Linked DNA regions of Homo sapiens. The main gene of each other region encodes a partner of the protein of the gene in region 2 in a complex. Links are inferred from orthologs where the notes say so. Each region holds a gene or a part of one and is shown on either strand. Other genes may lie near its edges. The genes, in order: UNC119, GNAT1, PDE6G and RHO.

Region 1 (8,318 bases), on a different chromosome or scaffold from region 2:
ACCCCCATAGAGAAGAACACAGGCTAGGCCAGGAGGAGGGTGTGGCAGGTGCAGCAGTGGGTGTGGAAGGGGTAAGGGGAGTCCTCAGGCCCAGGAAGGGAACCAAGAACAGTGGGAGGCCCTGCCTGAGGAAGCTCAGGGAGCTACAGGGCCTGATCTAACCCTCACAGCTCTTGCAGCAGCAACTTCAAGTGCTCAGGGAGGCCCTGGCAACAAAAAGAGCTGAGAGGTGCAGGGAGGGACTCGTGCTGTCAGCCTGCACAGCATCACATCCTCCCCTGGTGGCCCACAGAGGCCTGGAAATCACCCTCCAGGCCCCTGGGCCACCTCCTATTCCTCTGGGGCAGGAACAGGAAGTGAATATAAAGTCATTTTCTCTTCCCCAGGTCTGCTTCTTCCCCAAGCCTGACGCTGTCCCCTCCAGGAAGCCCTCCTGGCAGCCATCTGGTACCCTGGGGCCCAGCATGGACTTTATACAGCTTGGGGAAGAGGCAGGGCCCTGAGTCTACTACAGCCCACATGTGGGGTGGGGAGAGAATGGAAGTGGGCAACCCCTATCTCACCCCATTCACCCTATTTTCACAGAAAGTAAGCACCAGTATAAAGACATAGAAAGAAGGTACAGAGCATAGGGAACGGAGGTGGCAGAGTGGGGAGCAGGATCCCAGTGCCCAACTCCCAGATCCCTGTAAGGCCTTCTCTTCTCCCATTCTCCAACTTTTGGAGCCTCTCTCATTTGGGAACAACTTCCTGCAGTCTAACCTCAGTCTCTTCTACTGCAAACTCAATCTATCAACCTCTCTGTCCTTAGAAGAAGTGAGGAACACGGATATCTATGGCTCAGAACACCACGGCCACTCCTTCTCTTCTAGAAAGGATGAGGCCTGGGACCCAGGGTCAGGTCAGAATAAGGGGCAGAGTGGCCAAGGGCTCAGAACACAACTGCTCTATTCCTCTCAGCCACAAATAGCTTCCTAAGCTGGATTCAGGGCCCAGTAATCTGGGAACAGCAAACCTCAGACCTGCATGATTAGGGTCAGAAGAGACCAGGCAAGGGGTGCCAGGGTGGAAATCCCTGGAACTCTGTTCTCAATTCCTGCACAGGAAGGGGTTCTCATGAAGCCCTTTCCTCTACTTACCCTTCACAGATGCCCCATCTCTAAGGGCTATGAATTTCCTCCAAATTAGGAGACAAATGGTGGTACATGAGCTGGAAGCTCCCTCTAGTTGCAAAATAAACCCCCAAAGTTACTCAGGACTCAGTCAGTCTGAGAAAGTTCTGCCCCAGAGCTAAGCTGAATCCTAAATGCTGCTATTGCAAATTGTAGCCCAACTGGCTTCAACATCAGCCTGGTCCAGCCTCCCTCTCTCCATTGATGCCTGCTTGGGCAAGGGAGCTCAGTACTCTGGGGGCCCAGCTAAGAATGGCTGCTGCCTAGCTCAGTAAGGAGAGAGGAATTGGCCCCCAGGGACCCAGGAGCACAGGCTCAAGGCTGTCTCCCCTCCACAGCTCTGTCTGGGAGTCCGGTGTTCTGCTGCTTTGGAAGCTCTAGGGCTCAGGTCCACTCCAATACATGCCCCCCATACCCACAGAGAGGCCCCCCCCAACAGTTATTCTCACAAAGGGGGCCAGGGCAGGTTGCTGGTGAATGTGGCCAAGGTGGAGAGCCACTGTCTCTCCATGCACCTTTCATCCTTTGAGGCTCATCCAAAGCCTCTGCTATGAGGTTTCCTAGCCCTCGTTCCCTGCCTATGATGACCCCCTCCCCTGCCCTGAAAGCCAAGTTGTTTGACTCCAGGCAGCAGCTATGAGCAGCCCTGTAGGGCCCAAAAATACTACTGATCAAAGAGCCCAATGTACACAGCATGCATAGATGCCAGGCACTGTACAGAATCAGAGGACTTATCTTCACAATAATCTTACGAGAAAGGTATCATTATCCCCATTTTACAGATGAAAAGACATGCTCAGAGAGGTGAGGTTACTTGCCCAAGGTCACACAGACAATTATATGGCAGAGTTGGAACTCCAACCCAGGCAGTCCAGCTCAGAAACTCTTAACCACAGTGGAGACCAAGCCTCCCTTGATGACAGAGCCCCCAGAAGAGGACAGGTGCTAGTCCAGGCTTGGAGGGACATTATGCCACTCCCCATGAGAGGAACCACAGCCAACACACTAAAGCTGCCTGCTCAGTTTCTTTCCCGGGGAAGAAAATGGCCCAAGTCTTCCTGGAGGATCAGGGTGAGGGTATTAATGGTTGGGGAGACATGAAGAGTCTGAATGCCTCCCAAGTAACTCAGCCTCCACCTAGCCTCCAGCGTGGGGGCTGAGGACAGGCTGCACTCAGCCCCTCTCTTCATTAGTGCAGGGACGGGCCTCAAAGCGCTCTGGAGACTCCACAGCTACAGGGCTATGGTTGCAGCTGCTGCCGCACGTACCTCCACGCTGGGAAAAGGGGACGGGCCCCTGGAAAAGGAAGGAATAAATCTCGAAAGGGAGAAGAAGGAGGCACAGAGAGAGATCAAGGGAAGGGGGTACACAGAGATCTCAGACCTGGCGGCAGAAGGGAGAGCAGGGGACACAGGAGAGGGGACTCGGTGGGGGAGGGGAGGCGGGAAAGGGGGCGGGGGCCAGGGCTTGGCGCGCCGGGAGGGCCCCTCGCACCCTCTCCCCTTCCCACCCGCGGGCGGCGCTCCCTCGCGGGTGCTCACCACCGGTGATCCGCTGCAGCCCCAGCACGTCCTCCGGCCCGATCGGCTGCTTCCTCTGCAGCGGCCCCGGCCTGGGCCCTGGGCCTGCGTCCGGCTCCGACTCGGACCCAGATTCGGATTCCGCAGGCGGCTGTGGTATGGGGGCCACGCTCTGGCCCGAGGGCCCCGGAGCGGACTCCGTCGCCGTCCCGGCCCCACCGCCGCCCTTCTTCACCTTCATGGCCTTGCGGGGCCGAGGCTCGCCTGCTGCTGCCGCCGCTGCCTGCGCCGGCTGGAGCCGGGGGAAGTGGGAGCATCCGCAGCCCCGCCCCCGGCCGGGGCCCCAGGTACTGCCCCGCCCCGGCCCCGCCCCTGGGGTGGGCCCTGCGCTGATCCCGCCCGCCGCCCGGCCCAACCCTCCCGAAATGCGACGGGCGCGGGGGATGGGAGTCGGGGTATCCTGCCCTGGGCTTCATTCTGTTTTTCTAACACTTTCTTGTACTGGTACTAGTGGGGTCCTGACTACCTCTCCGCTTACTCATTGTGTTCCAGCCTTTCTGCCCGTGAGTTCCAGGCTCAGGGTCTCTGCTTGGATGGTCTTCCCCAGATGGCCTCTTTTCTCCTAGTCACAGCTCAAATGTCATCTGCTCAAAGGGCCTCCCTCACACCCAGTCTGAAGTCCTTCCCCCTCAGTCACCATCTGACCAGCCTGTTTTTGTCTTTCTAATGCATTATGTGAAATTATTTTTATTTGTCCGCTGACTCTTCCCCCTGAAAGCTCAGCTCTGTGAAAGCACTGGTCCTGCCTACTTTGTTCTCTGTAGGACCCCTGTACCTAGCAGAAGGCTCCCTGCAGCTGGTGCTCAAGACTTTTTTTTTTTTTTTTTTTTTTTTTTTGACCTGATGAATTAGTATCTCAGGTAAAAAGCAGATGCTAACAGCCTTGGGCAATCCAGCTAGGAAGGGCACATGGCCACGTGGAAGCAAAGTGGACCTGTGGGCACAGGAGGACAAACACCAGGAAACTGTTACTTACGCGTGAATGCAGAAAGAGTAGAGCTCAGACTTTGTATCATTCCAATTCATATTCAGCCAGTGTTTATTAAGAGCCTACTACACGCCAGACACTTTACATGCTGATCACATTTACTCCTCACAACCATCTTGTAAGGGAGACATCATCAGTGCCATTTGAACAAATGAAAAACTGAGGCTCAGAGAGATTCAATACCTTATCCAAAGCTCTCCAGACAATAAGTGCAAAAACAAGGATTTGAATTCAGGACTGTTTGATTCCAAATCTGGAACTTTCTGGAACCTCTGACACACACACACACACACACACACACACACACACACAGCACCATGTCCTGAGCTGCTGCCTCCTGGACTCCCGCCAGACTGCACCTGACAGACAAAGCCAACTAGGAGGGAGGGGAGTGAGGGAGAAGGTCCCACAGGTGACCAATGCCTGGCCCCTTCATGACAGCAGGGGCTAGGGCTGTCCCACAGGGACTAGAGAGAGGTGTGGAAGGCAGGGACTTTCCCATAATGCTCCCTCCTCTCAGTGCACAAGTGTGCTATGTTGAGAAATGGGGCAAAAGAACAAACAGTCCTTGCCACAGAGGGAGACAGGCAGCAGCCTTATCAAACAAGATAAGGAGACCCGGATGATGTGCCTTTTGAGGCCCCTGGTGGTGGAGGAGGATTGAGCCAGGTGAATGGGAAAGGAAGAAAAGATGAACCCATCTTGGAGTGTTGTACTTTGGTTGCTGGAGAGCCAACAGTGGAGACTGGAGACAAATATTTAAGTCATTCCGGCAGGCCCCATGTACGTGCCTCACAATCTAACACCGCCCACCTTGGCCAGAAAGGAAGGCTTCCTATGGAGGTGCTGCCCTGCTCAGTCTGTCTTCTCAGGCTTTCTCCAGGACTTGCGGGTCTCCAGGAAGATCTTGACCAGGGACAGGAGGATGGGCACAGCCATAGGCAGGAAGAGTGGGATGTAGATGGCAAACTTCTGGTCATCAGGGAAATAAAGGAGGTGGAGGAGTGACGGGTCAAAGAAGGCAAGCTCAGAGGATGTCACAGCTTCCTGGCTGGCGACAAAGGCAGATGCCAGGTGCCCAGACGCCAACTCTTCTGCCGACTTCTGGACGGCAGCTACAGCCTTGTACACCTAGGAAGGAGAAGGGACAAGAGGGTATACCAGTAAGTCCTAGGCATTGGTGGAAAGGGTGCTGGGCCTTACTGTGCCTTCCATCTACCAAGGAAGATGCCTGGAGTTCATCCAGGATCTATGGAAGTCTTTCTACAGGGATATGGTTTATTTTCCTAGGGTCAGCTTGAAACCTCGCACTCTCATCTGCACTCCTGCTTGGGGGCTGGTACTGCCGTCTAGAGGAAGGCTGGGACACTAAAGATGGCAAGCCCACACATACCATGGACCTCACAGGCTCTCTGGTCTCACCACACTCTGGCCCTCTCTGGCTACTCCAGTCCCAAGCTGCAGAATCCATCCCCTGCCTGCTTACCTCAGATGCCACGTCGTCCTTAATGACAATGTTGCTGATCTTGCCCAGAAGCTGCGCCAGGGAGGTAAGGGTGGTGGTGGCTGTGGCCAGGTTCTCCACTGACCGAGCCCAGAGCAGCCGGTCTAGCTCCCAGGTCATTAGCCCTTCACTCGTAGGCCCTGAAAGCAGGCATTTTGGAGGCAGCTGGGGCTGAGCAATCCCAAAGAGCAACCTGTAGGAACATCGGAGTAAGATCAAGGTGGCTGAGACCACAAGGCGGGAGATCATGGCTAAGATTTCTCAAATATCTGTCCTGAGCCAGTGATTTTCAATCTTACCCAGAACCATAGGGGTTAAAGGGAAGTACCTCAGGGTCTTGGGGGCATAAGGGGCAACACCAAACAAGTTGGCCCCAAACGCTGCTTCAACAGGTGTTTCTGCTTTTACCTGTTTCTACATTAGATTTCCAAGATCTTGTTTTTTAAAAAAAGGTTCCATGGCTAAAATACTTCTGATAACACCAACTCAGTTTAATCCTTTCACCTTTTCTACCCTCTCTTTGAACAAATGGGGCCAATGGGACTTAGCATTAAGGGATGATCCAGGACTGCCTTTGCCAAGGCACATGTGCTGTGCTTCTCTAAGCCTGCATCCGTGAGAGACACTGCTAGTCAATCAGAAGAATACTCTTTCCTAATGAGCCCAGATACAGCCTTAGAATCCTCAACACAGAGCCTCAGGCAGCCACTCTCAATCCATCAGGCAGCATAAGAATTAACAGCTATTTTCTTAAGCAGCCCTAATCACACTCCATGGACCTGACATTCATGAGTCTATTTTTCTTAAAACTGGTTTTGCTGGCTGGGCACAGTGGCTCACGCCTGTAATCCCAGCACTTTGGGAGGCCTAAGCGGGTGGATCACGAGGTCAGGAGTTCAAGACCAGCCTGGCCAAGATGGTGAAACCCCGTTTCTACTAAAATTACAAAAAATTAGCCAGTTGTGGTGGCGGGCACCTGTAGTCCCAGCTACTCGGGAGGCTGAGGCAGAGAATTGCTTGAACCCGGGAGGTGGAGGTTGCAGTGAGCCAAAATGGCACCACTGCACTCCGGCCTGGGCAACAGAGCAAGACTCCGTCTCAAAAAAAAAAATAAATGATTTTGTCACCTACTAGTCCTTCTTAGAAGGATGATGGGATCCTTAGAAACTTTTCTTGGTTTCCCTGGGGCTCTAGGCACAGCCAAGATATCCCTGCCAGGTAAGACTTGATTCCACTTTGCAACTCCCCTCTACAGCCAAGGAGACTATGTCCCCAAGTGGATCATCCAGGACCTCACCGCAACTGTGCCAGGAACACCTCCATCACTCGCACCATGTCCACCTCGACTCTCACTGGCAGCACTGAGGCATTATAGGTTTTGGAGTCAACATTATATACCTGAAAGGGGGAATGAGATTGCCACAACATCATACCAGGCCCTTGCACAGCTCTGCCCTAGGCACTCTGGAGAGAAAAGGAAAACATATTCTGTGCTCTTTAGAAGCTATAAACCTCATGGTATAGCTAATATTTTTTGAGTACCTACTACGGAGAGCATTAAATACATTATCCCAATTACCCCCTTGAAAGTCCTGTAGAACATATTTTTTTCTTATCCCATTTTAGAATTCTCCCCCATGAGAAACTTCCAGTCTAACAAGGGAGACAAGGCTCCCAACCTTGCAAGACTCCCACAAATAAGGCGAAGATCTAAGATGGACACAGAATGATCCTAGGTAAGGGCAAAGGGTCACAGTATAGAAAACACTGGCGGAAACAAAAGTGGGGCCGGCAGAAGAGGGGCATGAGCACATAGCACCCTCACCTTCCTGGTGCCTGCCCCTCCCACAGGCTGGGCCATGGAGGACACCAGAAGGAAAACAGAAGGAACACAGTTTCAGGGACACCTGCCTGTCCCAGAAGCATGGGCTCTGGGGTCTGCGTAGTGTGACTATTACCATAATGCCACCCCAGCGGGGACTATGGAAGGCATTGGTGGCCACTGGAGCGCCATCCTTGTCCTGAATGTACAGCGGTGAGTGTGCAAGCTCAGGCACGTAGAGTAGAAAGTTGAGCACAGGGTACAAGGAGGCAGCACTGGATCCTGTGGTATAAAGGGAAAGCAGAATATCAAAACATGCTGGACCTGGACCTTAGTCCCAGGTCGGCCTCTAACTTGCTGGTCACTCACTCTGGGACTGATTCCCCAACTAACAATCATTAGGATATCCTCCTGTCCAGGGTGTCTCTAGTAAAGGGCTTCAGAATGTTCTCCCGAGATGTGCCATACCGATGGAAACATAGTCCTTAGCTCCAAAACACCCCCGAATTCTCCCTCCTCAAAGGCCCCTTGACTGTCTACGACAGCTTTCTTGGCCACTCCCACAATGTACCCATATTACTACAGATAGTTTTATGCAAACCAGAAATCTGACCTTATGTCAGTTCCCTGCTTAATATCCCTCAATCACTAGCCACCCATATCAGGTTAAAGTTCAAACTCCTTAACATGGTCCTTTATGACCTGGCTCCTGCCTGCCTAACCGGCTTCATCTTTGGTCACTCACTCACATTTCAGCCACACTAAACTACTCTGAGCTTCCTGAATGCCTAAGCTCTCTCACTTGTCTGCATCTAAGCTCACAGTTCCCTTTGCCTGAAATGCCCTTCTTTTCTCTACTCAGCACTGTCATAAGGTAGTCCCTCAGTCAATGTTTGCTGAATGAATAAATGAACGGAGGAATTTTCTAAGGCCTCACATGCCACCCCCTCACAATCCTTGGGCCACACTAGCCTGCCTCTGGTATCTGAGATTCCACAATTAGATATACTCACTTTGGTTTGCCTGTGTTACAGTTCTTAGTCACACCTCCTCTTCCTAGTTTCCACCCGAAAAATGAAAAACTCTAATACTAGCTTCAAGGTTATTCAACCTCAATCAGCAGAACTGTCAATTCAAATTCTGCCCTCAAGTACTTTTGCTGTTGTCTTTCCTATGTGTGTGACAGCCTCTCTCCTAGATGGCTTTTAGGGAGATAGACCCAGCCTAGTCATTCATTTGTAAAAAGTGCTAG
Region 2 (7,624 bases):
CACGGAATGGCCACAAAGGTGGTCTGATCTGGTTGCTGGCTAGGGCCATAGGGTGGTCACAGAGCCTCTGAACCCCCTCTCCTTGCCCCTGCAGATTCGTGCAGAGGACCGCTTCCTGCGCACAGAGCAGGGCTTGTTGCTCCGTGCACTGCAGCTCAGCGATCGTGGCCTCTACTCCTGCACAGCCACTGAGAACAACTTTAAGCACGTCGTCACACGAGTGCAGCTGCATGTACTGGGCCGGGACGCCGTCCATGCTGCCCTCTTCCCACCACTGTCCATGAGCGCCCCGCCACCCCCAGGCGCAGGCCCCCCAACGCCTCCTTACCAGGAGTTAGCCCAGCTGCTGGCCCAGCCAGAAGTGGGCCTCATCCACCAGTACTGCCAGGGTTACTGGCGCCATGTGCCCCCCAGCCCCAGGGAGGCTCCAGGGGCACCCCGGTCTCCTGAGCCCCAGGACCAGAAAAAGCCCCGGAACCGCCGGCACCACCCTCCGGACACATGAGGCCAGCTGCCTGTGCCTGCCATGGGCCAGCCTAGCCCTTGTCCCTTTTAATATAAAAGATATATATATATATATATATATATAAAATATCTATATTCTATACACACCCTGCCCCTGCAAAGACAGTATTTATTGGTGGGTTGAATATAGCCTGCCTCAGTGGCAGCATCCTCCAAAACTTAGACCCATGCTGGTCAGAGACGGCAGAAAACAGAGCCTGCCTAACCAGGCCCAGCCAGTTGGTGGGGCCAGGCCAGGACCACACAGTCCCCAGACTCAGCTGGAAGTCTACCTGCTGGACAGCCTCCGCCAAGATCTACAGGACAAAGGGAGGGAGCAAGCCCTACTCGGATGGGGCACGGACTGTCCACCTTTTCTGATGTGTGTTGTCAGCCTGTGCTGTGGCATAGACATGGATGCGAGGACCACTTTGGAGACTGGGGTGGCCTCAAGAGCACACAGAGAAGGGAAGAAGGGGCCATCACAGGATGCCAGCCCCTGCCTGGGTTGGGGGCACTCAGCCACGACCAGCCCCTTCCTGGGTATTTATTCTCTATTTATTGGGGATAGGAGAAGAGGCATCCTGCCTGGGTGGGACAGCCTCTTCAGCCCCTTCTCCCCTCCCCGCCTGGCCAGGGCAGGGCCACCCCACTCTACCTCCTTAGCTTTCCCTGTGCCACTTTGACTCAGAGGCTGGGAGCATAGCAGAGGGGCCAGGCCCAGGCAGAGCTGACGGGAGGCCCCAGCTCTGAGGGGAGGGGGTCCGTGGTAGAGGCCTGGGGCCGGTAGAGGCTCCCCAGGGCTCCCTTATGTCCACCACTTCAGGGGATGGGTGTGGATGTAATTAGCTCTGGGGGGCAGTTGGGTAGATGGGTGGGGGCTCCTGGTGGCCTTCTGCTGCCCAGGCCACAGCCGCCTTTGGGTTCCATCTTGCTAATAAACACTGGCTCTGGGACTAGACTTTGGCTTCTCTCCTTGGTCAGGGGATTTAGAGCCACACGTGGTGGGCCTGGGGAGCCAGGTGGGGGGCTGGGAAGGGAGTAGATTGGCTCCATTTAAAGAAACCCAACATGTAGAAACCACATTTAGTTTGACAAACCTGGGCTGCTGCACCACCCCAAACACTTGGGTAGTGCGAAGGGCTGTAGAGACCCCTCAGGGCCCACTCACTCCTCAGGGTCAGGGAGGGTGGGTGGAGCCTGAAGGCTGAAAGTGGCAGAAATGCAACGGCCTCACTCCTGGACAGATCCCCATCATCCAACAGGGTGGGTGTAGAAGCTGCCAGCCTGTGGTAGGAGCCAGCATTCACTTCCCACGCATACTATTTAGAGACAGCCGTTAGTGCTCAGTGTCTGGTGCCCCGGCACCCCCTTGTGGTCTCTTGAGTCTGTGGCAGAGTTGAGTGCTGAAAGGCAGCCAGGTTCCAGGGAAGAGTCCAGCCAGGAGGCTCAGGGTGCCTGGAGGAGCCTTTGAGAGCCCAAGATTTGGGTTTTCCTATGGAAGTTGAGGGTGGGAAGTCTCTAGAACCTGGGAGCTCAACCTGAACAATTTCTGCCCGGCAGTGAGCCCTGCACCTGAACAGAGCACCAGACCCCCTAAGCTGAGGCAGGCAGGCCCTGGAGATAATCTTAGGCAGGCCTCAGAGCACCCACAGCAGACAGAGCAGGAGCAGGATAGGTGAGCCCCATTCCTCCATACCCCAGGGAACACTACACCTGCTCTGGGATGCAATTTCTCCACCTGGCAACAGGCCTGCAAAACATTCTCTGGAAGAGCCTGGCCACTTCTGCAGATTAGAGACTTTGTTGCACCCAAATTCAAGTGTACATATAGGCACAGGCGCCTGCAAGCATGCATGCACACACACAGTCATACACAGGCAGAGATGGACATGCACAGGCACACATATGCTCAGGTACAAACAGGCATGTTTACACCCCTGCGTATAAGCAAGTGCACACATGCAAACCTACACAAACTGCAAAACACACAAGCCTATGTGTGCATGAAGAGAATACACAAAGCATATTCACACATGCATACACATGTGTATACATGTGCACACATACATAAGCATGCGCACAGGCACGTGATTCCTATAAGAGCACATGCACTCACAAAGGCATAAACATGCAGGCACACATGTACACACAGGTATTCATGCACAAATGTGTCAAGTTATTGCTCGCTTGGTGCCAGCAAAAGACACACCCATGGCCGGGCGAGGTGGCTCACACCTGAATCCCAGCACTTTGGGAGGCCGAGGTGGGTGGATCACAAGGTCAGGAGATCGAGACCATCCTGACCAACATGGTGAAACCCCGTCTCTACTAAAAATACACAAAAAATTAGCTGGGTATGGTGGCACATGCCCGTAATCCCAGCTACTTGGGAGGCTGAGGTGGGAGAAGCTTAAACCAGGGAGTTGAAGGTTGCAGTGAGCCAAGATCGTGTCACAGCACTCAAGCCTGGCAACAGAGTGAAACTCTGTCTCAAAAAAAAAAAAAAAAAAAAAAAAAAAAGGCCAGGCACGGTGGCTCATGCCTGTAATCCCAGCACTTTGGGAGGCCGAGGCGGGCAGATCACGAGGTCAGGAGACTGAGACCATCCTGGCTAACACGGTGAAACCCTGTCTTTACTAAAATACAAAAAAAGTAGCCCGACGTAGTGGCGGGCACCTGTTGTCCCAGCTACTCAGGAGGCTGAGGCAGGAGAATGGCGTGAACCTGGGAGGTGGAGCTTGCAGTGAGCTGAGATTGCGCCACTGCACTCCAGCCTGAGCAACAGAGCGAGACTCCATCTCAGAAAAAAAAAAAAAAAAGACACATACACCGAGGCACACAGAGCAGATATGCATGCCCACCACAGTCCGCTGGAAGCAGAGGACCTCCTTGGGGCAGCTCCAGCCTGTGATATGGGATGAATGCAATGCCCACTGTTTCCCTCTCTCTGGATTCCCTGCAGGTCATAAAATCCCAGTCCAGAGTCACCAGCCCTTCTTAACCACTTCCTACTGTGTGACCCTTTCAGCCTTTACTTCCTCATCAGTAAAATGAGGCTGATGATATGGGCATCCATACTCCAGGGCCAGTGTGAGCTTACAACAAGATAAGGAGTGGTGCTGAGCCTGGTGCCGGGCAGGCAGCAGGCATGTTTCTCCCAATTATGCCCTCTCACTGCCAGCCCCACCTCCATTGTCCTCACCCCCAGGGCTCAAGGTTCTGCCTTCCCCTTTCTCAGCCCTGACCCTACTGAACATGTCTCCCCACTCCCAGGCAGTGCCAGGGCCTCTCCTGGAGGGTTGCGGGGACAGAAGGACAGCCGGAGTGCAGAGTCAGCGGTTGAGGGATTGGGGCTATGCCAGCCCGATTAGAAGGGTTGGGGGGGCTGAGCTGGATTCACCTGTCCTTGTCTCTGATTGGCTCTTGGACACCCCTAGCCCCCAAATCCCACTAAGCAGCCCCACCAGGGATTGCACAGGTCCGTAGAGAGCCAGTTGATTGCAGGTCCTCCTGGGGCCAGAAGGGTGCCTGGGAGGCCAGGTTCTGGGGATCCCCTCCATCCAGAAGAACCACCTGCTCACTCTGTCCCTTCGCCTGCTGCTGGGACCATGGGGGCTGGGGCCAGTGCTGAGGAGAAGCACTCCAGGGAGCTGGAAAAGAAGCTGAAAGAGGACGCTGAGAAGGATGCTCGAACCGTGAAGCTGCTGCTTCTGGGTAGGGGTGTGGGCCCAGGTGGGGCCACTGCCACCAGGTCATTGGTCTGGAGGCAGGCAGGCAGCCCTTCTGTGAAGCAAGGATTCCCTGGGAAGCAGTATGAGCCTGTGACAGAGTAGGGCACAGGGTGGGAGCCCTGGCCAAGCAAGGCCAGGCCTGACAGGTGGTGTCCTAGTCCCCCAGGGCTGGACATCCCACAAAGCCCCTCTCCAGACGGCTCTGCCTCAGGTGACCCACCCTCCCCAGAAGTGCGTGCCAACCACACTCTTGCACGGGTGTGTGATGCCGACTTTTCCGTGGCTGGGTTCCCGCAAGCTTCATGCAGCCTTTGGTTTGATACGCCTGCTAGGCAATGCTCAGAAGCCAGGAGCCTCACTGGGAGCCCGTTATTGGGCTGCTACTTTGGGAAGGGGATGGCCATAGTCCTCCTGGGAGTGGGGAGCCTCTAGGACCACCCAGATCCACAACGAATGGCCCTCAGGTGCCAGAGGGCTGTGGCTGATAGACCTACAAAGCAGCCAGAGGGGCTGGCGGGTACTGAGGCCCAGTGGGAGTAGATAAAGCCGCGTCCACTGGACCATGGGCACTGAGGAGAGATGGGGCTGATCCAGGCCTGCCTCAAGGTCACTGCCTGACCTCTCAAGGGGAAAAAGCAGCTTCAAGAGGGGCTCCACCCAAGCTCCCCAGGGTCTGGTCAACCAGCTGGAGGTGGGTGAGGGACCAAGCCAGTCCCACTTTCCCCCAAGGCAGAGAGGCTAAGCCGGAAATCTCATTAACTGTGCCCAACGCCCTCGCAGGGGCAAGCTCAGAAAGGATGTCAACTCTGCCCTCCCTCCTACCCAAAAGAGCTAATTCCCTCTGAGCCTCCTGGAGACACCTGCACCCCTTCAGGTGAAATGCAAGGGGTTTACCCGCCTCAAATAACCCAGTGCTTGCGGTACCAGAGGCTCCCACGAGGTGGCGATGACGCTCCGGGATTTCTTCATTGCAGTCTCACAGCATAATAAAGGCTGCCTGTGCCGGGGTCTTGGGGACTCCCCTGTCCCAGAACAGTTGAGGTCGTTGAGTCCCCTCGTTGGCTTCCTTTCTTCACTTTCCTGGCATTTGCAAACCTTGTGACTTCAGGATGTCAGGACTTAATTTGGATGGGGGGGTAGGTGTGGCTACGGGGTCGGGGCTGGCGCTCAGGCCTCTTCGCTGCGGGTCCACCCTGCCAACTCGGGAGGTCCCCGTCCTCCTGGCCTCCTTGCTGGAGGGGGCAGGCTGGTCAGCGCAGCTCTGAGGCGCCGCGTCTCTTTCAGGTGCCGGTGAGTCCGGGAAGAGCACCATCGTCAAGCAGATGAAGTGAGTGCCCCTGCCTGTCCCGAGGCCCCTGGGTCTGGGTCCTTCCCCACTTCCCCACGAGGCGCTGATTCTGCTCTCCTCGGCCTCAGGATTATCCACCAGGACGGGTACTCGCTGGAAGAGTGCCTCGAGTTTATCGCCATCATCTACGGCAACACGTTGCAGTCCATCCTGGCCATCGTACGCGCCATGACCACACTCAACATCCAGTACGGAGACTCTGCACGCCAGGTGTGCCAGGAGGCGGGCTGAGCGGGCCTCTGGGGACTCGAGGCTCGCGGCTGGGCCCGAGTCCCTGGCCGCCACCAGCCACTCTCACCCTGCCCCCAGGACGACGCCCGGAAGCTGATGCACATGGCAGACACTATCGAGGAGGGCACGATGCCCAAGGAGATGTCGGACATCATCCAGCGGCTGTGGAAGGACTCCGGTATCCAGGCCTGTTTTGAGCGCGCCTCGGAGTACCAGCTCAACGACTCGGCGGGCTAGTGAGCGCGCGGGCAGCGCGGGGCGCGGGGCGCGGGGCGCAGGGGGCCCTCCACGCCTCCCCACCCACCTACGGCCGGGTCTCGCGCAGCTACCTCTCCGACCTGGAGCGCCTGGTAACCCCGGGCTACGTGCCCACCGAGCAGGACGTGCTGCGCTCGCGAGTCAAGACCACTGGCATCATCGAGACGCAGTTCTCCTTCAAGGATCTCAACTTCCGGTACGACCCATACGCTAGCCCAGGAGGTCACTGCCCCAGGCCCCGTCCTGCCCCGGGGACCCCATCCCTGCGATAGACCCTGCCCCTTCCCTGATACCCCGCCAGCAGAAAGGGTGGTAGTCCCGGCCGAGAGCTCCCCGACCAGCACAGGGCGAAGGGATGTTGCCTGTGGGGCCCGGGGCGCAGGTTCAGGCCCCCGCGGCCCCGCAGGATGTTCGATGTGGGCGGGCAGCGCTCGGAGCGCAAGAAGTGGATCCACTGCTTCGAGGGCGTGACCTGCATCATCTTCATCGCGGCGCTGAGCGCCTACGACATGGTGCTAGTGGAGGACGACGAAGTGGTGCGTGCCAGGCAGGGCCTGTGTTCCAGGGGGGCGAGGAGGAGCTGCTGGTCCCTGGAGGCGGAGACCGCGCGCTGGGCTGGGGGAGGGCACGGGAGGGGATGCCTGTCCCGGGCGGCCTGAGGAGGCCCGGAGGCGTTCAGCAGGCCCATCTGGGGCAGTGCGGGGAGCCCTCTGAGAGCCAGCTGAGCGGGAAGCCCCGCGTGCCCGGGAGCCCAGAGAGCAGGTGCTGCGGGTCGGACGCTACCCCGGGTGCCCAACAGCTGCTGCCCTCCTCAGAACCGCATGCACGAGAGCCTGCACCTGTTCAACAGCATCTGCAACCACCGCTACTTCGCCACGACGTCCATCGTGCTCTTCCTTAACAAGAAGGACGTCTTCTTCGAGAAGATCAAGAAGGCGCACCTCAGCATCTGTTTCCCGGACTACGATGGTGAGAAGTCCGCAAGGCCGCCAGGCGGCGCCCCCGCCCCACGATCGCGGCGCGCACCCCCCGCACGGGGAAGGAAGGGCTGAGCAGAGTGAGAGCTCCCGCCCCCGCAGGACCCAACACCTACGAGGACGCCGGCAACTACATCAAGGTGCAGTTCCTCGAGCTCAACATGCGGCGCGACGTGAAGGAGATCTATTCCCACATGACGTGCGCCACCGACACGCAGAACGTCAAATTTGTCTTCGACGCTGTCACCGACATCATCATCAAGGAGAACCTCAAAGACTGTGGCCTCTTCTGAGGTAGGTCGCTGCCCTCTCCAGGCTCTTGCCTCAATACCCCAGCCCCGTCCAGCTCCCCACCCCACACCACGGCCCTGGAGCCTCACCCCCAAATCCTGGAGCCTACTGCCTCCAGGCCCCACCCCAGCTCCTCAGGCTCCACCCCACCGACAGAGGCCCCGCCCCACCCCACAAGTCCCACCCATTGAATTTCTTTTGGCCCCGCCCCAAGACCTCAGGTGTCACAGCTTCCAGGGCCGCCCCACCACACACAATGCCTAAACCCATTTATTTTGGGT
Region 3 (7,927 bases), on a different chromosome or scaffold from region 2:
TGAGGCAGGAGGATCACTTGGGCCAGGAAGTCAAGACGGAAGTAAGTCATGATTGCCTCACTACACTCCAGCCTGGGTGGCAGAGACCCCTGTCTCTAAAAACAAAACAATCACACACACAATCATATTCATAGTTCAACATGAGCACTTGAAGTAATTAAAGACCCCAGGGCAGCACACAGAATCTGCTTAGCCTGTAGATAGAGAACACAAGAAAAGCCATGGCAAAAAACTACGTATGTCCGGCCGGGCACGGCAGCTCACGCCTGTAATCCTAGCACTGTGGGAGTCTGAGACGGGCGGATCACTTGAGTCTAGGAGTTTGAGACCACCCTGGGCAACATAGTGAGACTCTATCTTTACAAAAAATACAAAAATTAGCCGGGTGTGGTGGTGAGCACCTGTAGTCCCAGCTACTCAGGAGGCTGATGTGGCAGGATTGCTTGAGCCTGAGGAGGTCAAGGCTGCAGTGAGTTTGTTTGTTCTCAAAAAACAAACAAAAAACAGTTTATAGTCTTTATACACAGCCGCTTTGGGAAAGCTCCATTCCTTAACTTGTGCTTGTCTTGGTCTTCCTGTGTGTAGTTACTGCTGTAGAAAAGTATTAATAGCTTCATTTTTTTGTTTTGAGACAGAGTCTCTGTCGCCCAGGCTAGAGAGCAATGGCACAATCTCTGCTCACTGCAACCTCCACTTACCGAGTTCAAAAAATTCTCCTGCCTCAGCCTCCCCAGTAGCTAGGATTAAGGCACCTGCCACCACGCCTGGCTAATTTTTTGTATTTTTAGTAGAGACAGGGTTTCGCCATGTTGGCCAAGCTGGTGTCGAACACCTGGCCTCAGCTGATCCACCTGCCTCAGCCTCCCAAAGTGCTGGATTACAGGTGTGAGCCACCGTGCCCAGCCTAATAGTCTCATTTTGTTTCTTTTCTTTTTTTCTTTTCTTTTTTTGAGATGAAGTTTCGCTCTTGTTGCCCAGGCTGAAGTGCAATGGCACGATCTTGGCTCACTGCAACCTCTGCCTGCTGGGTTCAATCGATTCTCCTGCCTCAGCCTCCTGAGTAGCTGGGATTACAAGCATGCACCACCACGCCCGGCTAATTTTGTATTTTTGTAGAGACAGGTCTTCTCCATGTTGGTCAGGCTGGTCTCCAACTCCTGACCTCAGGTGATCCGCCCACCTTGGCCTCCCAAAGTTCTGGGATTACAGACGTGAGCCAATGTGCCCGGCCTAATAGTTTCATTTCATGTAAACATAAGTAACTTCCAAGCAATTACGTAGAGGGCTAAAATTGTACCTGGTATTTAAGTCATCAGAACCGGTTCTGCAAGTGACTGTGTTTTGCATTATTGTGAAGATATGAAAATGTGGTGAACGACAATTTAAAGAGTGTTCCACATCACCGTTTAATTTCTTTTTTATTATTTATTTATTTTTGAGATGAAGTCTTCCTCTGTCGCCCAGGTTGGAGTGCAGTGGCGCCATCTCAGCTCACTGCAACCTCCGCCTCCCGGGTTTAAATGATTCTCCTGCCGCAGCCTCCCTGGCAGCTGGGACTACAGGCGCCCGCCACCACGCCCCACTAATTTTTTTAGTTTTAGTAGAGATGGGGTTTCACTATATTGCCCAGGCCGGTCTCAAACTCCTGACCTCAGGTGGTCCAGCCACCTCGTCCTCCAAAAGTACAGGGATGAGCCACCATGCCTGGCCTATTTTACTATTTCAGAGTTGAGGTCTCGCTCTGTCACCCAGGTTAAAGTGCAATGGTACAATAATAGCTCTCTGCAGCCTTGAATTCCTGCAGCCACCGATATTTCACTTCTGCATTCCAGCCTAGGTGACAGAGCCAGATCCTGTCTCTCAAAAAAAAAAAAAAAAAAAAAAGATATGGATTGCAATCTTGTTTCCTCTGGGGCTGAGTGAGGGATTGAGCCATGTGGGACAAGAGGTTTTTGACTTGTTCCATTTATTGCAGCATAACTTGAATCCAGCCGTCCTTTCTGGACTAGTGATTTTTGCCAGTCTCATGGCTAGAGTTTTACAATCAAGGCTATAGGGTCTTTGTTTAGGTCTATTTGGAGCTTTATGTATTTTCATGTGATTGTCTTTGTATATTGTCTGTGATACATGATACCAAAAAAGGAGTACTCATACATTTTATTTTATTTTACTATTTATATTTTTATTATTATTTTTTGAGACAGAGTCTCACTGTTGCCCAGGCTGGAGTGCAGTGGTGCAATCTCAGCTCACTGCAACCTCCACCTCCTGGGTTCAAGCGATTCTCCTGCCTCAGCCTCCTGAGTAACTGGGACTACAGGTGCATGCCACCACGCCCAGCTAATTTTTGTATTTTTAGTAGAGACAGGGTTTCACCATGTTGGCCAGGCTGGTCTTGAACTCCTGATCTCAAGTAATCCACCTGCCTCGGCCTCCCAAAGTGCTGAGATTACAGGCGTGAGCCACCATGCCCGTCCAGGTTTTATTTTTAATTTTTCAAAATTTTCATATTTCTTCAGAGATAGGGTCTCTCTCTGTCCCCCAGGCTGGAGTGGTTTGACCATGGCTCACTGCAGCCTCGAGCTCCTAGGCTCAAGGGATCCTCCTGCCTCAGCCTCCCAAGTAGCTGGGTCTATAGAAGTGAGCCACTGTGGCCAGGCACGGTGGCTCACACCTGTAATCCCAGCACTTCGGGAGGCCAAAGTGGGCAGATCACGAGGTCAGGAGATTGAGACCATCCTGGCTAACATGGTGAAACCCTGTCTCTACTAAAAATATTAAAAATTAGCTGGGCGTGGTGGTGGGAGCCTGTAATCCCAGCTACTCAGGAGGCCGAGGCAGGAGAATCACTTGAACTCAGGAGGCAGAGGTTGCAGTGAGCCGAGATCAGGCCACTGCACTCCAGCCTGGGCAACAGAGCGAGACTCAGTCTCAAAAATGAAATAATAAAATAAGAAGTGAGCCACTGCACCTAGCTAATTTTTTCTATTTTTTGTAGAGATGGGGGGGTCTCACTATGTTGTCCAGGCTGGTCTTGAACTCCTGGCCTCAAGTGATCCTCCTGCCTCAGCCTCCCAAAGCGCTGTTTGAGAGCCACTGCTCCCGGCCGAGTTATGGGTTTTTATTTATTTATTTATTTATTTATTTATTCATTTGAAACAGAATCTCGCTCTGTCGCCCAGGCTCTAGTGCGGTGGCGCGATCTCGGCTCACTGCAAGCTCCGCCTCCCGGGTTCACGCCATTCTCCTGCCTCAGCCTCCCAAGTAGCTGGGATTACAGGTACATGCCACCACGCCCGGCTAATTTTTTTGTATTTTTAGTAGAGTCGGGGTTTCACCATGTTAGCAAGGATGGTCTCGATCTCCTGACCTTGTGATCCACCTGCCTCAGCCTCCCAAAGTGCTGGGATTACAGGCATGAGCCACCACACCAGGCCTGAGTTATGGGTTTTTAAAGGTGCAGAGGCAGAGGTCACAGGCAAGTCATAAATCAGTACATGGAGGTTGTACACTGGTTTTGCCATAAATAGCAAGGAGATCTTGAAGCCAGGGACCACGGGTCATAGGTGGATTCAAAGGTTTTCTGATTTGGTGCAGAAGCGAATCTTTGTCTAAAACTTTGGGATCCGCAGGAAAGAATGTTAGCTCTGGGTTGTGGGCATGGCCTCCTCCAGGCCCCTCAGGATGGGCATAGCCTCCTCCAGGCCCCTCAGGAAGAAATTTAGGTAAGAGAAGGGTGGTCAGAGGCCAGTCCTCAGCTCCCGCTCATGTGAGGTCTGTGTGCCAGCACGCCCCTTTGGTGGGAGTCCCTGTTTCTGGAAAACAACTGAGGAGCACCTGCTAAGATGGCATGGTTTGCTTCTGTGGAGACTCTCGGGACTCTGGCTTCCATCTGTTGTTCTAAGCTCCTGTGACCTTCTTGTGACCTTCCTGTGGATCGGCTGCTCATTTCCTTCTCTGGGCTGGCTGGGGGCCTGGCTTGCCCTTGAAGGAACTCAACATTGTCCTTGCTTCTGTGCTTGGGAAGACCCACAGGCCCCTAAGGGCGGGGGGGGGTCCTTGTTTGGTTTCAGGAGCAGCAGGTGCAAAGGCCCTGGGGTGGGAGGGGTGAGATGTGAGGCCACAGCAGCGGGTGAGGGCCAGGCTGCAGAGGGTTTTGGGGACCATGAAGGTGGGCCCTTCAGAGATCAGGCAGGGTCAGGAAAGGCAGTAGGGAGGCCCAAGACAGCAGACACTGTGGTTGCTTCCATCTGGAAGATGGGCAGCTGCAGGAGCCTGGCTGTTCAGGGTCACACTTCTCTCCCTGTCCCGGCCCCATCTGCTGGGTGTCCTTCCTTGGAGCCCTTGACAGCACCTGAGCCCCTCCTCTCCATCCCCTGAACCTTGGTGGTTGTGCCCCCCCTCGGGGCCCAACAATCTCATTAGGGTGGCACTGAGACGCCTAATCAGCTCATGAAGCAGCGAGATAAAGGCCGGGGCTGGCACCCTGCGGAGGGAGGCCCAGCACTCACAGCACAGCCCCCTGAGACCCGCCCTGCACTTGGTGAGTAGTGGCCAACCCCGCTGTCTTTCCTGGCAGCCACTTCCCCCAGTGAGTCAGTGGGGGTCTGCTCATCACCCAAGGGGCAGAGGGAGCTGACAGGCTTTTACCACCGTGGCTGAGGTCTGGGTCTGCAGATGCCTACCCGCCACCCTGTTATTCAGAGGGGACTCCCAGCCAACCTCCTCCTCTGCTCCCCCATGGTAACCAGTGCTTCCACCATCCCCAGGCCAGTGATGGTCTGGGAACCTCAGGCCACGTGGGCTCAGCTGACCTGAGTGGACGCCAGTCACAGGCTGGGTCGGGCCAGGGCAGCGCAGGCAGCGGTTTCCACATGGATGGCATCTGATGGTTGGAGCTCCATCAGGGCCCAGAGCTGCCCAGGACAGCCCATGTCCCAGGGCTGGAGAAGCAGCTGGACGGGGCCTGTGCTATCTAGGATATGAGGATTGGGTGCCATGGGATCTGAGCAGCTGGGACCACCGGGCTCCTGAGTGCTGGTTTTGCACAGGCTGGTGCTGGTCCCAGTCCCGGGGACAGAGGCTGAACCTTAGTGAGGGAAGGTGCCATGGCAGGGTCCACCCCAATCCCAGGTGCCCAGCACCCCTTGCAGAGCCCGCGTCCCCAAAATGGGCCACCTGCCCTTGCTTTCTGATCACTCTCACGCCTGAAGCTCGGCAAACAGCTGGTAGTAGCCCAGGGCTGGAGTCAGGAATCCCAGCCAAAAAGACCAGGGGCAGGAAAGGGGACCCCAAGAGGTGGTCCCTGGGGCATCCAGTGCGGGCAAGCAGCCCCTCCTGTCTGTGTCATGTGCCTCCTTCCAGAACTTTCCGGCAGCATGTGCAGCTGACAGCAGCTCGATGGGAGATTAGGAATTCCCCTCTGCTGTTAATAGGCTTAGGGGAAGCTGAACTGCCCTTGGCCCAGGTCACTGGGGCTTAGGGCATCTGGGGAGAGGCTGTAGGGAGAGGAGGAGGAGAGGCCACCCTGTGCAGCAGTGCAGGGACACTGATCTCGTCCAGAGCGGCCGAGGCCCTTCAGCCACGCCACGCCACGCCAGGCGGGTGACCCTGCTCCCCGAGCTGACTCCAGACACAGAGAGGGCCTGGTGATTCCCCCAGCAGGGGGAACACATGCCCGGCACCCTCCGTCCCCAAGCCCCAGCTTGTCCCTCTATGAAGTGGGGTTGGGGAACGCAGGGCTTCACAGCTCAGCACCAAGTCTCTGAGACAGGCCCCTTTCCCAGGGGCGCCGTGCCTGGGGACCCTGCCCCCCATTTTGTGGGTCATTCTCCATCAGCACTGCGGGGTGCCCGTCATGGTGCTGAGGGGCTCAGGGATGCCTCCGTGAGTGGGTGAAGGGAACTGACAGCACCCCAACTGCAAAGCACAGACAAGAGGCAGAAAGCAATAAACCCATCAATAAGAATCAGAGGGGTTGGCCGGGCGCAGTGGCTCACGCCTGTAATCCCAGCACTTTGGGAGGCCAAGGTGGGTGGATCACGAGGTCAGGAGATCGAGACCATCCTGGCTAACATGGTGAAACTCCATCTCTACTAAAAAATACAAAAAAAAAAATAAATTAGCCGGGCGTGGTGTCGGGCGCCTGTAGTCCCAGCTACTGGGGAGGCTGAGGCAGGAGAATGACGTGAACCCAGGAGGTGGAGCTTGCAGTGAGCTGAGATCGTGCCACTGCACTCTAGCCTGGGCAACAGAGCGAGACTCCGTCTAAAAAAAAAAAAAAGGTGAGATTCCAGCCACAGCTCTGGAATAGGATCCTAGGGGGCTACTTTGGCAGGTATTAAAACTTTTTTAGGCCGGGCGCGGTGGCTCACGCCTGTAATCCCTGCACTTTGGGAGGCCGAGGCGGGTGGATCACAAGGTCAGGAGTTTGAGACCAGCCTGACCAAGATGGTGAAACCCCATCTGTACTAAAAACACAAAGAAAAATTAGCTGGGTGTGGTGGCGCATGCCTGTAATCTGAGCTACTCCGGAGGCTGAGGCAGGAGAATTACTTGAACCCGGGAGGCAGAAGTTGCAGTGAGCCAAGATCTCGCCACTGCACTCCAACCTGGGTGACAGAGCAAGACTCTGTCTCAAAAAAAAAAAAAAAAAAGAATCAGAGGGCAACAGCCCGGGAGACGCCCACCAGCCTGGAATCAGGGCTAACTCGACGCGTGATGAGAAGCGGCAAATCAGAACCTAAGGACACAGTGGCTGCAGGGCGGGGGTTCAGGGGAGACCTCCCTGAGCGGGAACTTGAGATGGAGGCAGCCCACTAACCATCAGGAAGGGCAGCTCAGAGGCAGGCTCCTCTGCTGGGCCTGGCAGGCCCATTCCCAGCAGGAGCCACAGAGGACTTTCATCAGAGTAGCAGCTGGGCCGGGTGCGGTGGCTCACGCCTGTAATACCAGCACTTTGGGAGGCTGAGGCGGGTGGATCATGAGGTCAGGAGTTCGAGACAACCTCGTCAACATGGTGAAACCCCGTCTCTACTAAAAATGCAAAAATGCAAAGATTAGCCGGGCATGGTGGCAGACGCCGGTAATCCCAGCTGCTGGGGAGGCTGAGGCAGGAGAATCACTTGAACCCGGGAGGCGGAGGTTGCAGTGAGCCGAGATAGTGCCACTGCACTCCAGCCCAGGCAACAAGAGCAAAACTCTGTCTCAAAAACAAAACAAAACAAAAAAAAACCCAGAGTAGCAGTTAAATGCCGACGGGAGTCACGCTTCCCTGGGGTGGGGAACGCAGGGGAAGGGGCAGGAAGTTGTCAGTGGTCACCCACAGGGAGGTGGTGAGGACTCCAGGCTCAGGACCTGCCACAGGTTGGGAGGCTAGGTTTGCTGTGGATTGTGGGCCGGGGCGAGGGAGGCCAGGACAGGGGGGAGTCCGGAGCTGTGTGTGGCCAGCGTTGCAGGGGGGCATCCACTAGGCAAGGGGAATGGGAGCGTGCGGGTGGACCCAAGCAAAGCTGGCAGGCTGGTTACCCCAGGGCGGATTGCAGGGGCTGCTGTCTGGATGACGCTGGAGCTGGCGGGGCTGGGTCTCAGCCCCTCCACCGGTGGGTTGAGACCCCCACAAGGGTTGGAAGCAGGAGGGCTGACTGGGACCCGGGCCTGGTCTGCCCCCAGACCGCAGCAGGAGGGAGTCCAGGAGCCAAGGTTGCCGCGGTGTCTCCGTCAGCCTCACCATGAACCTGGAACCGCCCAAGGCTGAGTTCCGGTCAGCCACCAGGGTGGCCGGGGGACCTGTCACCCCCAGGAAAGGGCCCCCTAAATTTAAGCAGCGACAGACCAGGCAGTTCAAGAGCAAGCCCCCAAAGAAAGGCGTTCAAGGGTAAGCAGAGCTGGGGGATGGGGCCTCTGAAAGGGAGGAGGCGGTCCTGAG
Region 4 (4,940 bases), about 79 Mb from region 2:
CGCAAATTCCAATCCTCTTTGGTCTAGTACCCCGGGGGCAGCCCCCTCTAACCTTGGGCCTCAGCAGCAGGGGAGGCCACACCTTCCTAGTGCAGGTGGCCATATTGTGGCCCCTTGGAACTGGGTCCCACTCAGCCTCTAGGCGATTGTCTCCTAATGGGGCTGAGATGAGACACAGTGGGGACAGTGGTTTGGACAATAGGACTGGTGACTCTGGTCCCCAGAGGCCTCATGTCCCTCTGTCTCCAGAAAATTCCCACTCTCACTTCCCTTTCCTCCTCAGTCTTGCTAGGGTCCATTTCTTACCCCTTGCTGAATTTGAGCCCACCCCCTGGACTTTTTCCCCATCTTCTCCAATCTGGCCTAGTTCTATCCTCTGGAAGCAGAGCCGCTGGACGCTCTGGGTTTCCTGAGGCCCGTCCACTGTCACCAATATCAGGAACCATTGCCACGTCCTAATGACGTGCGCTGGAAGCCTCTAGTTTCCAGAAGCTGCACAAAGATCCCTTAGATACTCTGTGTGTCCATCTTTGGCCTGGAAAATACTCTCACCCTGGGGCTAGGAAGACCTCGGTTTGTACAAACTTCCTCAAATGCAGAGCCTGAGGGCTCTCCCCACCTCCTCACCAACCCTCTGCGTGGCATAGCCCTAGCCTCAGCGGGCAGTGGATGCTGGGGCTGGGCATGCAGGGAGAGGCTGGGTGGTGTCATCTGGTAACGCAGCCACCAAACAATGAAGCGACACTGATTCCACAAGGTGCATCTGCATCCCCATCTGATCCATTCCATCCTGTCACCCAGCCATGCAGACGTTTATGATCCCCTTTTCCAGGGAGGGAATGTGAAGCCCCAGAAAGGGCCAGCGCTCGGCAGCCACCTTGGCTGTTCCCAAGTCCCTCACAGGCAGGGTCTCCCTACCTGCCTGTCCTCAGGTACATCCCCGAGGGCCTGCAGTGCTCGTGTGGAATCGACTACTACACGCTCAAGCCGGAGGTCAACAACGAGTCTTTTGTCATCTACATGTTCGTGGTCCACTTCACCATCCCCATGATTATCATCTTTTTCTGCTATGGGCAGCTCGTCTTCACCGTCAAGGAGGTACGGGCCGGGGGGTGGGCGGCCTCACGGCTCTGAGGGTCCAGCCCCCAGCATGCATCTGCGGCTCCTGCTCCCTGGAGGAGCCATGGTCTGGACCCGGGTCCCGTGTCCTGCAGGCCGCTGCCCAGCAGCAGGAGTCAGCCACCACACAGAAGGCAGAGAAGGAGGTCACCCGCATGGTCATCATCATGGTCATCGCTTTCCTGATCTGCTGGGTGCCCTACGCCAGCGTGGCATTCTACATCTTCACCCACCAGGGCTCCAACTTCGGTCCCATCTTCATGACCATCCCAGCGTTCTTTGCCAAGAGCGCCGCCATCTACAACCCTGTCATCTATATCATGATGAACAAGCAGGTGCCTACTGCGGGTGGGAGGGCCCCAGTGCCCCAGGCCACAGGCGCTGCCTGCCAAGGACAAGCTACTTCCCAGGGCAGGGGAGGGGGCTCCATCAGGGTTACTGGCAGCAGTCTTGGGTCAGCAGTCCCAATGGGGAGTGTGTGAGAAATGCAGATTCCTGGCCCCACTCAGAACTGCTGAATCTCAGGGTGGGCCCAGGAACCTGCATTTCCAGCAAGCCCTCCACAGGTGGCTCAGATGCTCACTCAGGTGGGAGAAGCTCCAGTCAGCTAGTTCTGGAAGCCCAATGTCAAAGTCAGAAGGACCCAAGTCGGGAATGGGATGGGCCAGTCTCCATAAAGCTGAATAAGGAGCTAAAAAGTCTTATTCTGAGGGGTAAAGGGGTAAAGGGTTCCTCGGAGAGGTACCTCCGAGGGGTAAACAGTTGGGTAAACAGTCTCTGAAGTCAGCTCTGCCATTTTCTAGCTGTATGGCCCTGGGCAAGTCAATTTCCTTCTCTGTGCTTTGGTTTCCTCATCCATAGAAAGGTAGAAAGGGCAAAACACCAAACTCTTGGATTACAAGAGATAATTTACAGAACACCCTTGGCACACAGAGGGCACCATGAAATGTCACGGGTGACACAGCCCCCTTGTGCTCAGTCCCTGGCATCTCTAGGGGTGAGGAGCGTCTGCCTAGCAGGTTCCCTCCAGGAAGCTGGATTTGAGTGGATGGGGCGCTGGAATCGTGAGGGGCAGAAGCAGGCAAAGGGTCGGGGCGAACCTCACTAACGTGCCAGTTCCAAGCACACTGTGGGCAGCCCTGGCCCTGACTCAAGCCTCTTGCCTTCCAGTTCCGGAACTGCATGCTCACCACCATCTGCTGCGGCAAGAACCCACTGGGTGACGATGAGGCCTCTGCTACCGTGTCCAAGACGGAGACGAGCCAGGTGGCCCCGGCCTAAGACCTGCCTAGGACTCTGTGGCCGACTATAGGCGTCTCCCATCCCCTACACCTTCCCCCAGCCACAGCCATCCCACCAGGAGCAGCGCCTGTGCAGAATGAACGAAGTCACATAGGCTCCTTAATTTTTTTTTTTTTTTTAAGAAATAATTAATGAGGCTCCTCACTCACCTGGGACAGCCTGAGAAGGGACATCCACCAAGACCTACTGATCTGGAGTCCCACGTTCCCCAAGGCCAGCGGGATGTGTGCCCCTCCTCCTCCCAACTCATCTTTCAGGAACACGAGGATTCTTGCTTTCTGGAAAAGTGTCCCAGCTTAGGGATAAGTGTCTAGCACAGAATGGGGCACACAGTAGGTGCTTAATAAATGCTGGATGGATGCAGGAAGGAATGGAGGAATGAATGGGAAGGGAGAACATATCTATCCTCTCAGACCCTCGCAGCAGCAGCAACTCATACTTGGCTAATGATATGGAGCAGTTGTTTTTCCCTCCCTGGGCCTCACTTTCTTCTCCTATAAAATGGAAATCCCAGATCCCTGGTCCTGCCGACACGCAGCTACTGAGAAGACCAAAAGAGGTGTGTGTGTGTCTATGTGTGTGTTTCAGCACTTTGTAAATAGCAAGAAGCTGTACAGATTCTAGTTAATGTTGTGAATAACATCAATTAATGTAACTAGTTAATTACTATGATTATCACCTCCTGATAGTGAACATTTTGAGATTGGGCATTCAGATGATGGGGTTTCACCCAACCTTGGGGCAGGTTTTTAAAAATTAGCTAGGCATCAAGGCCAGACCAGGGCTGGGGGTTGGGCTGTAGGCAGGGACAGTCACAGGAATGCAGAATGCAGTCATCAGACCTGAAAAAACAACACTGGGGGAGGGGGACGGTGAAGGCCAAGTTCCCAATGAGGGTGAGATTGGGCCTGGGGTCTCACCCCTAGTGTGGGGCCCCAGGTCCCGTGCCTCCCCTTCCCAATGTGGCCTATGGAGAGACAGGCCTTTCTCTCAGCCTCTGGAAGCCACCTGCTCTTTTGCTCTAGCACCTGGGTCCCAGCATCTAGAGCATGGAGCCTCTAGAAGCCATGCTCACCCGCCCACATTTAATTAACAGCTGAGTCCCTGATGTCATCCTTATCTCGAAGAGCTTAGAAACAAAGAGTGGGAAATTCCACTGGGCCTACCTTCCTTGGGGATGTTCATGGGCCCCAGTTTCCAGTTTCCCTTGCCAGACAAGCCCATCTTCAGCAGTTGCTAGTCCATTCTCCATTCTGGAGAATCTGCTCCAAAAAGCTGGCCACATCTCTGAGGTGTCAGAATTAAGCTGCCTCAGTAACTGCTCCCCCTTCTCCATATAAGCAAAGCCAGAAGCTCTAGCTTTACCCAGCTCTGCCTGGAGACTAAGGCAAATTGGGCCATTAAAAGCTCAGCTCCTATGTTGGTATTAACGGTGGTGGGTTTTGTTGCTTTCACACTCTATCCACAGGATAGATTGAAACTGCCAGCTTCCACCTGATCCCTGACCCTGGGATGGCTGGATTGAGCAATGAGCAGAGCCAAGCAGCACAGAGTCCCCTGGGGCTAGAGGTGGAGGAGGCAGTCCTGGGAATGGGAAAAACCCCAACTTTGGGGTCATAGAGGCACAGGTAACCCATAAAACTGCAAACAAGCTTTGTCACCTCTCAGAGCTTCCTTATCTGCAAAAAAGAATCTTAAAACTGACCTTGGCTGGGCACAGTGGCTCACACCTCTAATCCCAGCACTTTGGGAGGCCAAGGTGGGCAGATCACGAGGTCAGGAGTTTGAGACCAGCCTGACCAACACGGTGAAACCCTGTCTCTACTAAAAATACAAAAATCAGCTGGGCATGGTGGCGCGTGCCTGTAATCCCAGCTATTCAGTGGGCTGAGGCAGGAGAATCGCTTGAACCTGGGAGGTGGAGGTTGCAGTGAGCCGAGATTGCGCCACTGCACTCCAGCCTGAGCAACAGAGGGACAGTCTGTCTCCAAACAAAACAAAACAAACAAACAAACAAACAAACAAACAAAAAACAACAACAAAAAAACCACTTGATCCTAAGGGGATTAGATGCGACTGTGGACTTTAAGTGGCCAGCCTACTGCCTGGCATGCAGCAGATGAGACTATGGCAATACTGGGCTTCAGCTCAGAGCTGGCCTTACTAGAGACCCTGTCCCAAAGGGGAAAAGGATGGAGCTAAAGCTCCCGAGAGTCACCCCCTCCTCCGAGGTGAGAAAGGAGGGCAGGAGCATGAGATAGCCGATCCTCGGTGCCTTGGTGAGGCTGGGGCAAATCATGCTGGGATCTCTATCATTGTCCCTCTTTACTGTGACTCACTAGATAATATCAGTCAGGATACTTTTGGTCACAAGTGATAGGAAATCCAACTCATTTGGGCTGAAGCAAAAGGGACACATTGTTGGCTCACATGAACAAAAAGCCCGGGGCTTCAGGCACAGGGTATCACCATGACTGAGATGGGGATTAATTCTGTGATTGGCCAAGTCTAGGTCACCT

What was found.
Region 1: the proteins of GNAT1 (region 2) and UNC119 are in contact, whole or in part, in a crystal structure (PDB 3RBQ), measured with the Homo sapiens proteins. Residues at the interface, in NP_000163.2 of Homo sapiens: Gly2, Ala3, Gly4, Ala5, Ser6, Ala7, Glu8; in NP_005139.1 of Homo sapiens: Asp87, Phe88, Val89, Arg90, Phe91, Ile105, Lys106, Lys107, Gly126, Arg127, Phe128, Val129, Tyr131, Phe137, Val147, Glu163, Leu172, Ser218, Tyr220, Asn230.
Region 3: the proteins of GNAT1 (region 2) and PDE6G are in contact, whole or in part, in a cryo-EM structure (PDB 7JSN), measured with the Bos taurus proteins. The link is inferred for Homo sapiens from one-to-one orthologs. Residues at the interface, in NP_851365.1 of Bos taurus: Ser140, Arg201, Arg204, Lys205, Trp207, Ile208, Phe211, Asp227, Val229, Glu235, Val236, Asn237, His240, Glu241, His244, Leu245, Ser248, Ile249, Ile281, Phe283, Glu305, Leu306, Met308; in NP_776846.1 of Bos taurus: Arg36, Gln37, Phe38, Lys39, Ser40, Lys41, Pro42, Pro43, Lys45, Leu60, Val66, Ile67, Cys68, Pro69, Trp70, Glu71, Phe73, Asn74, His75, Leu76, Glu77, Leu78.
Region 4: the proteins of GNAT1 (region 2) and RHO are in contact, whole or in part, in a cryo-EM structure (PDB 6OYA), measured with the Bos taurus proteins. The link is inferred for Homo sapiens from one-to-one orthologs. Residues at the interface, in NP_851365.1 of Bos taurus: Ala27, Arg28, Asp189, Leu190, Val312, Glu314, Tyr316, Asp333, Ala334, Asp337, Ile340, Lys341, Asn343, Leu344, Lys345, Asp346, Cys347, Gly348, Leu349, Phe350; in NP_001014890.1 of Bos taurus: Leu72, Arg135, Val138, Val139, Lys141, Ser144, Asn145, Phe146, Arg147, Val230, Ala233, Gln236, Gln237, Ser240, Thr242, Thr243, Lys245, Ala246, Glu249, Val250, Met253, Met257, Asn310, Lys311, Gln312.

What each region holds. Positions count from the first base shown.
Region 1 is NC_000017.11:28,549,625-28,557,942, forward strand, and holds the start of UNC119 (protein unc-119 homolog A), read right to left. Parts: upstream 3,001-8,318; 5' UTR 2,934-3,000; coding exon 2,714-2,933; intron 2,469-2,713; exon of another isoform or gene 2,441-2,468; intron 1-2,440. Other genes in the region: GPI-anchor transamidase component PIGS, read right to left, coding at 4,596-4,871, 5,227-5,437, 6,542-6,642, 7,203-7,348. UniProt on the Homo sapiens protein: Involved in synaptic functions in photoreceptor cells, the signal transduction in immune cells as a Src family kinase activator, endosome recycling, the uptake of bacteria and endocytosis, protein trafficking in sensory neurons and as lipid-binding chaperone with specificity for a diverse subset of myristoylated proteins.
Region 2 is NC_000003.12:50,187,611-50,195,234, forward strand, and holds the start of GNAT1 (guanine nucleotide-binding protein G(t) subunit alpha-1), read left to right. Parts: upstream 1-3,999; 5' UTR 4,000-4,115; coding exon 4,116-4,221; intron 4,222-5,522; coding exon 5,523-5,565; intron 5,566-5,654; coding exon 5,655-5,796; intron 5,797-5,895; coding exon 5,896-6,053; intron 6,054-6,142; coding exon 6,143-6,271; intron 6,272-6,481; coding exon 6,482-6,611; intron 6,612-6,890; coding exon 6,891-7,044; intron 7,045-7,154; coding exon 7,155-7,345; 3' UTR 7,346-7,346; intron 7,347-7,624. Other genes in the region: SEMA3F (semaphorin-3F isoform 1 precursor), read left to right, coding at 95-505. UniProt on the Homo sapiens protein: Functions as a signal transducer for the rod photoreceptor RHO. Required for normal RHO-mediated light perception by the retina.
Region 3 is NC_000017.11:81,653,109-81,661,035, reverse strand, and holds the start of PDE6G (retinal rod rhodopsin-sensitive cGMP 3',5'-cyclic phosphodiesterase subunit gamma), read left to right. Parts: upstream 1-4,493; 5' UTR 4,494-4,543; intron 4,544-7,309; exon of another isoform or gene 7,310-7,378; intron 7,379-7,671; 5' UTR 7,672-7,730; coding exon 7,731-7,876; intron 7,877-7,927.
Region 4 is NC_000003.12:129,531,319-129,536,258, forward strand, and holds the end of RHO (rhodopsin), read left to right. Parts: intron 1-932; coding exon 933-1,098; intron 1,099-1,214; coding exon 1,215-1,454; intron 1,455-2,289; coding exon 2,290-2,400; 3' UTR 2,401-4,026; downstream 4,027-4,940. UniProt on the Homo sapiens protein: Photoreceptor required for image-forming vision at low light intensity. Required for photoreceptor cell viability after birth.